Linked DNA regions of Homo sapiens. The protein of the gene in region 2 purifies or fractionates together with the protein of the main gene of each other region. This does not show direct contact. Each region holds a gene or a part of one and is shown on either strand. Other genes may lie near its edges.

Region 1 (3,500 bases), on a different chromosome or scaffold from region 2:
TGCACTGGCGAGATCATAGCTCACTGCCACCTCGAACTCCTGGGCTCAAGGGATCCACCTGCCTCAGCCTCCCAAGTGGCTGCAAATACAGGCATGTGCTACCATGCTTAGCCATTTTATTTTATTTATATTTTATTTTTATTATTATTATTATCTTCTAAAGACAAGGTCTCACCAGCTTGCTCAGGCTGGTTTTGAACTCCTGGGCTCAGGTGATCTGCCCACCTCAGCCTCTCAAAGTGCTGGGATTCCACATCCCGCTGCAGCTCTGATTCTTGATTAGTTTCCCCGTCACACACATGCACACAAACACACACGCACATCACTACCACCGTCACCACCACCACCAGCAACAAAAACTATACTTTATCCCTGTCATGGGGGCAAGAACAACATTCTAGCTTCTTTCCAGGGCAATAGTTCATAGGTCCTGGAGCCTGTTAGACCACCTTCCTTTCTGTCCCTATCCTTACACCAACTTCAAGCAAATGGACAAATGGATCTCTACTTCTCTGCGAAGCATCTCACTGTCCCCTACCCTTCCCTGTTTGTGTCTGCCTCTCCAGAATCATACAGGGGCAATGGCAGTGGGGAGAGAATTTGGGCATGAAGTTGGAGAAATAAGGTTAAATGTCCCAAACAACCAGTCTCCATGGCACTACGATTTGAAATTTACCAAAAGAGCAAAGATGAAGAGTGTGATCTATATACATAATGGAATACTGCTCAGCCATAGAAAAGAATGAAGTCACATCTTTGAAGCCACACAGATGGAACTGGAGGCCATTACCTTAAGTGAAACAACTCAGAAACAGAGTCAAATACCACACGTTCTCACTTACAAGTGGGAGCTAAACAAAGGGTAACATCCATAGAGCATGGAATGATAGACACTAGAGCCTCAGAAGGGTGGGAGGGTGGGAGCCAGGTGAGGGCTGGAAAATTATTTATTGGGTACAATGTTCACTATTTGGGTAAGAGTTACACTAAGGCCGGGCACGGTGGCTCACGCCTGTAATCCCAGCACTTTGGGAGGCCGAGGCGGGTGGATCACGAGGTCAGGAGTTTGAGACCAGCCTAGCCAATACGGTGAAACCTTGTCCCTACTAAAAATACAAAAATCAGCTGGGCGTGGTGGCCCATGCCTGTAATCCCAACTACTCGAAGAATTGCTTGAACCCAGGAGGTGGATGTTGCAGTGAGCCGAGATCACTCCACTGTACTCCAGCCTGGGCAACACGGCGAGAGTCCATCTCAAAAAAAAAGGGGTAGTTACAGTAAAAGCCCAGACACTACCACTGTGCAGTAACATATCCATGAAACAAAGCTGCTCTTGCGCCCCCTACATCTACAAAAATAAATACATAAAGTAAAAAATAAAGAGCAGAGCAGACAGAAAGCATTTAAGCCACCGAACAGCACAATCGAATCAGAATTTTCTAAAGGACCATCTTACTTTTGTGCAGAGAATGGTCGGGTGAGGGAAAAAGGCAGACACAGGGAGACCAAAGAGCCAACATTCATTCAGTGCGTGCTTTTGACCACTGATGGGTACTAAGATGTCTGTCCAGGCGTGGCAAAGATGACAGCAAGACAAACAAACGCAAACCCCATCCCCGGGGAGCTGATGGTCTAGGAGGTCACTGCGTGTCCAGGCAAGTGGTGACAGTTGCTGGACCTGGGCTGGTGGGGTGAGGACGAGGAAAAGTGGAAAACAGCTCGGGTAGGAGGAAAAATTGATAAGACTGGTGACAAGGTGAGTGTGTTGAGCCGGAGAGGGAGGTAGCAAAATGTCCTAGAGTGGCGGACTTTAACACTTGCTGTGCAGCTCCTCAAAAATGCAGACGCCTGCATGCGTCCACAGAGCAGGGAATGAAACAGAGCTAGTGAGGCGGCCCAGGCACCAGCGCGGTGGGGCGTGTGAATCTGATTCATGGTGTGGGAGAAAGCAAGCACATTTTTTATTATTATTATTATTATTATTATTTTGAAATGGAATCTCGCTCTGTCACCCAGGCTGGAGTGCAATGGCACGATCTCGGCTCACTGCCATCTCCGCCTCCCGGGTACACACAGTTCTCCTGCCTCAGCCTCCCGAGTAGCTGGGACTACAGGTGTGAGCAAGCACATTATTAATAAAGTCACAGGAGATTCCCTGTGACATTTCAACCCATACAAAGCATTCTGACCAGGCTGGGCAACGTGATGAGACCACATCTCTACAAAAAAAATACAAAAATTAGCCAGCATGGTGGTGCATGCCTGTAGTCCCAGCTACTCGGGGGAGCTGAGGTGGGAGGATTGCTTGAGCCTGGGAGGTCGAGGCTGCAGTAAGCTGTGATCACACACTCCAGCCTGGGTGACAGAGAGAGGTCCTGTCTCAAAGAAAAAAAAAAAAAGTATTTTCATAGTTTTTAGGTGAGGTTGCCATTGTTGTAAATGGCAAATTCTCCAACTCTCATCTATGAACATGGCCCATGAGGAAATGGAATATATCGAGCATCATGGTTGTTTCAAGAAATGACTTTTTTTTTAGTTCCTCATTCATTCTTCCCCACACAAAACTTCCCCAGCTGGCCTCCAACCCATTCTACCTTCTCACTTGTTCTGGGCTGAACTGTGCCCCCCCAAAAATTTACATGTTGAAGCCCTAATCCTCAAGACCTCATAATGTGGCTGTTTTGGGAAATGGGGTCTTTAAAGGAGTGACTAGATTAACATTAGGTCTTGTGTAGTCATGCCTGACTGTGCCTAATCCATCAGGACTGCTGTCCCTGTAAGAAGAGGAGACTAGGCCACTCTTCCCCCCAAGGCAAGATGGCATCAGTACACAGGGAGAAGGGGGCATCTACAAACCAAGGAGGGCGGCCTCAGAAGAAACCAACCCTGCTGACACCTTGATCTTAGACTTTCGGCCTCAGAACTGCAAGAAAATGAATTTTTGTTGTTGAAGCCATTCAGTCTGTGGCACTTTGTTACAGCAGAAACCACACCACCGGCCGGGTGCGGTGGCTCATGCCTGTAATCCCAGCATTTTGGGAGGCCGAGGCGGGCGGATCACCTGAGGTCAGGACTTCGAGACTAGCCTGGACAACATGATGAAACCCCATCTCTACTAAAAATACAAAAAATTAGCTGGGTATGGTGGTGGGTGCCTGTAATCCCAGCTACTCAGGAGGCTGAGGCAGGAGAATCACTTGAACCCAGGAGGCAGAGATTGCAGTGAGCCGAGGTCACGGCATTGCACTCCAGCCTGGGCAATAAGAGCAAAACTCTGCCTCAAAAAAAGAAAAAAAGAAAAAGAAAAGAAAGAAACCACACCAGCAACCTGGTCCTGAAGATCTTTCTCCAGTCTGTTTCTCTCTCTCTCTCTCATATGAACTTGCACTCACACAGATCACATGCACGGGGACTCACCACAATCTCCGAATGTTACAGCCAGGATGCTGGAGCGTTTCACACAACACTCTCATCCCTGGGTCCCCCAGAGAATTGTCACT
Region 2 (3,500 bases):
TTTAGCTCCCCGCTGCACTTACCAGGGCTCCCTGCCCTAGGGTGTCAGTGGAAGTGGAGCACCTTTCTTCAAGTCTAATTCTAACCACGGGAATTCAGGCATCCCAGGTGGCGAGGCCTGCAATGGAACGGCCCTCAAGCCCTGCTGATCCCTTCTGGGAAATGGCAGAGATCCCCTGGATACCAGGCCACCCTGGGCTCCTGAGAGACCTCATCAAAGGGGTCTGGGCACAAGAGGCACTGTGGGTCACCAAGACCAAGTCCTATCCTAGGCCTTAGGGGCTTCACCCACTTGTTCCAGCACGGCTGATGGCAGAGCTGGGAGCCTGAGGCATCCTGATAGGCACAGGGGACCCAAGAAAGCCGGGCCCAGGCACACCCACCTGCAGAAGTTCCCATTCTGACTGGCACTCCTTGGCCTCCAGTTCCCCAATCAGCGCATCGAGCAGGGCGATGTCCTGGGATACGCGGGTGTCATATGCCTTCCTGATCTGCCCAACCATCTGGCCCACGTCCTCCAGTGAGGCCACAAAGAAATGCTCTTGCTGCTCCAGGAAGTAGTACACCTGCTCCAGCTTCCTCTGCACCCGCTGCTTCAGCGCTTCAGTTTGTTTCTGGGGAGCAGAGGACAGGGAGGTATGGGGGTCTGTGCTGTGGGTGGACGTGGATGTCCAGGAACCCCCAGAAGCCCACCTCCTGGAGGTGGATAAGAGGTGGGCTTATGCTGCCTCTTCAAGGCCTAGATTCCAGAGCAGGAGGCGATATTGTCTGGAACCTTCCAGAAAAGACTGAGCATGGCTGGGGCTAGCTCTGGGAAAATGTCCTTAAACCTGGTGTTAAGGTTTAACTGTGTCCCTTCCAAAATTTACACGTTGAAGCCCTAACCCCCAGTACTCAGCATGTGATCTTATTTGGAGATAAGAGTTCTTGCAGATGTAATTAGTTAAGATGTGGTCCTACTGGGATTGGGTGGGTCCCTAATCCAATATAAATGTTGTCTTATAAAATGGGGAAATTTGGGCTGGGTGCATTGGCTCATGTCTGTAATCCCAGCACTTTGGGAGGCTGAGTTGGGCAGATCACTTGAGATCAGGAGTTCGAGACCAGCCTGGCCAACATGGGGAAACTCTGTCTTTACTAAAAATACAAAAATTAGCCAGGAGTGGTGGCATGTGCCTACAGTCCCAGCAACTCGGGAGGCTGAGGCAGGAGAATTGCTTCAACTGGGGAGGCGAAGGTTTGCAGTGAGCCGAGATTGCACCACTGCACCCCAGCCTGGACGACGGAGTGAGATTCCATCTCAAAAAAAAAAAAAAAAAAAAACCCTAAAAAACAAAAAAACCAGCCCAGGCACGATGGCTCACACCTGTAATCCCAGCACTTTGGGAGGCCGAGGCAGGTGGATCACCTGAGGTCAGGAGTTTGAGACCAGCCTGGCCAACACGGTGAAATCCCGTCTCTACTAAAAATACAAAAATTAGCCAGGCGCGGTGGCAGGCGCCTGTAATTCCAGCCACTAAGGAGGCTGAGGCAGGAGAATTGCTTGAACCTCGGAGGTGGAGGTTGGAGCAAGCCAAGATCGTGCCACTGTACTCCAGCCTGGGTGACAGAGCGAGACTCCATCTTGGAAACAAAACAAAAAAACAGAGAGTAAATTATGAAGTTAAAAGTGTTCTTGGCCGGGCGCAGTGGCTCACATCTGTAATCCCAGTACTTTGGGAGGCCAAGGCGGGCGGATCACGAGTTCAGGAGTTCGAGAACAGCCTGACCAACATGGTGAAACCCCATCTCTACTAAAACTACAAAAATTAGCCAGGCATGGTGGCACTCACCTATAATCCCAGCTACTCAGGAGGCTGAGGCAGGAGAATCGCTTGAACCCGGGAGGCAGAGGTTGCAGTGAGCCAAGATCACACCACTGCACTACAACCTGGGTGACAGAGCGAGACTCCGTCACAAAAAAAGAAAGTGGCGTTCTCCTCCCTTTTCCTCAATCCCATCTTTCTGCAGTAGTCACCGGCATAGGTTGCTCTCTACCATCTTCTGGTGAGTATGAGAAAGCATGACAGGATCCTCAGAGGTGACCCCTGCCTGCTGGGGGTGGTCTCCCTCTACAGGGATGAGCTTACCCTTGGCTGCTGGTTACCCTCTGTCCCCTGAGAGGAGGTGGCCATCCCTGCTGCCCTGTGAACCACAGCAGAATCTCGGGGACCCCTGCTCACTCTTCCCACCTTCCTCCCAGGGACGGATGGGCCATCAGCCACCTCTGACCTTACCAGAAAGCTCACTGCCTTCTCCTCCCCATAGGATCGCTGCTCCTCCCCTGATTTTCTCAGCTTCTTCAGATGCTCCAGCTGCTTCTGAATTTTCTTCTGGAAAAACAGCACTTGTTGAAAAGCTTGAATTTGGCTCCTGCCATCTTTAGCTGGTGCCAACTCTGGAGGGGAACATCTCCTTCTGGTAGCAAGGCTGAGGGTGCTGCTGCCAGCGGCATGGGGAGGGGTGCTCAGGAAAGAGGAGGGAGGAATGGCTGAATTGCCAAAGGCAGCAGAGCTGAGAGGCACTTCCTCTGAGCCTCTGGATTCAGCCATACCTGAAGCCAGCTCCCCCTGGATCTCTGAGCAACATAAACCTGTAGCTCCCCTCTTTGCTGGACTGGTTTATATTGTGTTCTTGCCATTTCCAGCCCAAGAATGCTGGTTAATGCACCAACAACCCAGAGTTGTTGGGAAAATGAAGTAAGGCCCAGTGTGTCCAAGTGCCTGGCAGAGAAGAGCCCACAGGCAGGGAGTGCCTACCTTGTGTTCCAGGGCGACCTCCTCAATGGGGCGCACCCGGTGGCCTTGGTGCTCCTGACTCAGACTGCAGATGAGGCAGATGGGCTCATCGTGATCCTCACAGAAGAGCAGCTGGACCTGCTTCAGGTGGCGCTTACACTGTGGCAGGGGCTGGGGGCTTAGGCTTCCCGGGCTCTTCCTTTCATGGGAGTCCTGGCACCGGGGGCAGCCAGGTGAGCGGCTGCCTGAGGCCTGGGGGTGCCCAGAAACTGCCTCGGGGAAGCTGCAGGAATCACGCACACAGGTACCGTCAACTGGGTCTCCTTCCTGGGCGTGGCAGCGGGGACTCGCAGCCGTGTCTGGTGGCCTTCCTGGGGACATGCAGTGGAAAAACCCCCTGAATGGCAAACCCAAGTTGCTTACACAGAGGTATCACAAAGCACAGCGGACACAGCCCTTGCCTGAGATGTGCGAGTTCTCAGTTAGACTCTGCCCACTTCCTAGCTTGTCCTCCCCCGACTTCCATCCAGTGAGGAAGCAAACAGGCCACTGGGCCTGAGAGCTAAGGGCCAGACCTCAGACATTCCTGAGCCTTGGAATTCTTGGGCATTTATCCTAAAGAAAGACCCATGGCCTTGTGCTGTTCCTCCTGCACAGACATAGATCTAGCAGGTGATGCCAAGGAAAGAGACATTCTGACCAGTGTTCCTTTGCCACTTGAACC

Evidence for each region. Proteins that work in one complex are often made in the same cells at the same time.
Region 1: the proteins of MEFV (region 2) and NLRP3 purify together in Homo sapiens (affinity purification with western blotting, with the first as the bait; one study listed by BioGRID). This does not show direct contact.

The regions. Positions count from the first base shown.
Region 1 is NC_000001.11:247,429,673-247,433,172, reverse strand, and holds part of NLRP3 (NACHT, LRR and PYD domains-containing protein 3), read right to left. Parts: coding exon 3,418-3,500; intron 1-3,417. UniProt on the Homo sapiens protein: Sensor component of the NLRP3 inflammasome, which mediates inflammasome activation in response to defects in membrane integrity, leading to secretion of inflammatory cytokines IL1B and IL18 and pyroptosis.
Region 2 is NC_000016.10:3,246,634-3,250,133, forward strand, and holds part of MEFV (pyrin), read right to left. Parts: intron 3,148-3,500; coding exon 2,798-3,147; intron 2,372-2,797; coding exon 2,276-2,371; intron 614-2,275; coding exon 383-613; intron 1-382. UniProt on the Homo sapiens protein: Involved in the regulation of innate immunity and the inflammatory response in response to IFNG/IFN-gamma.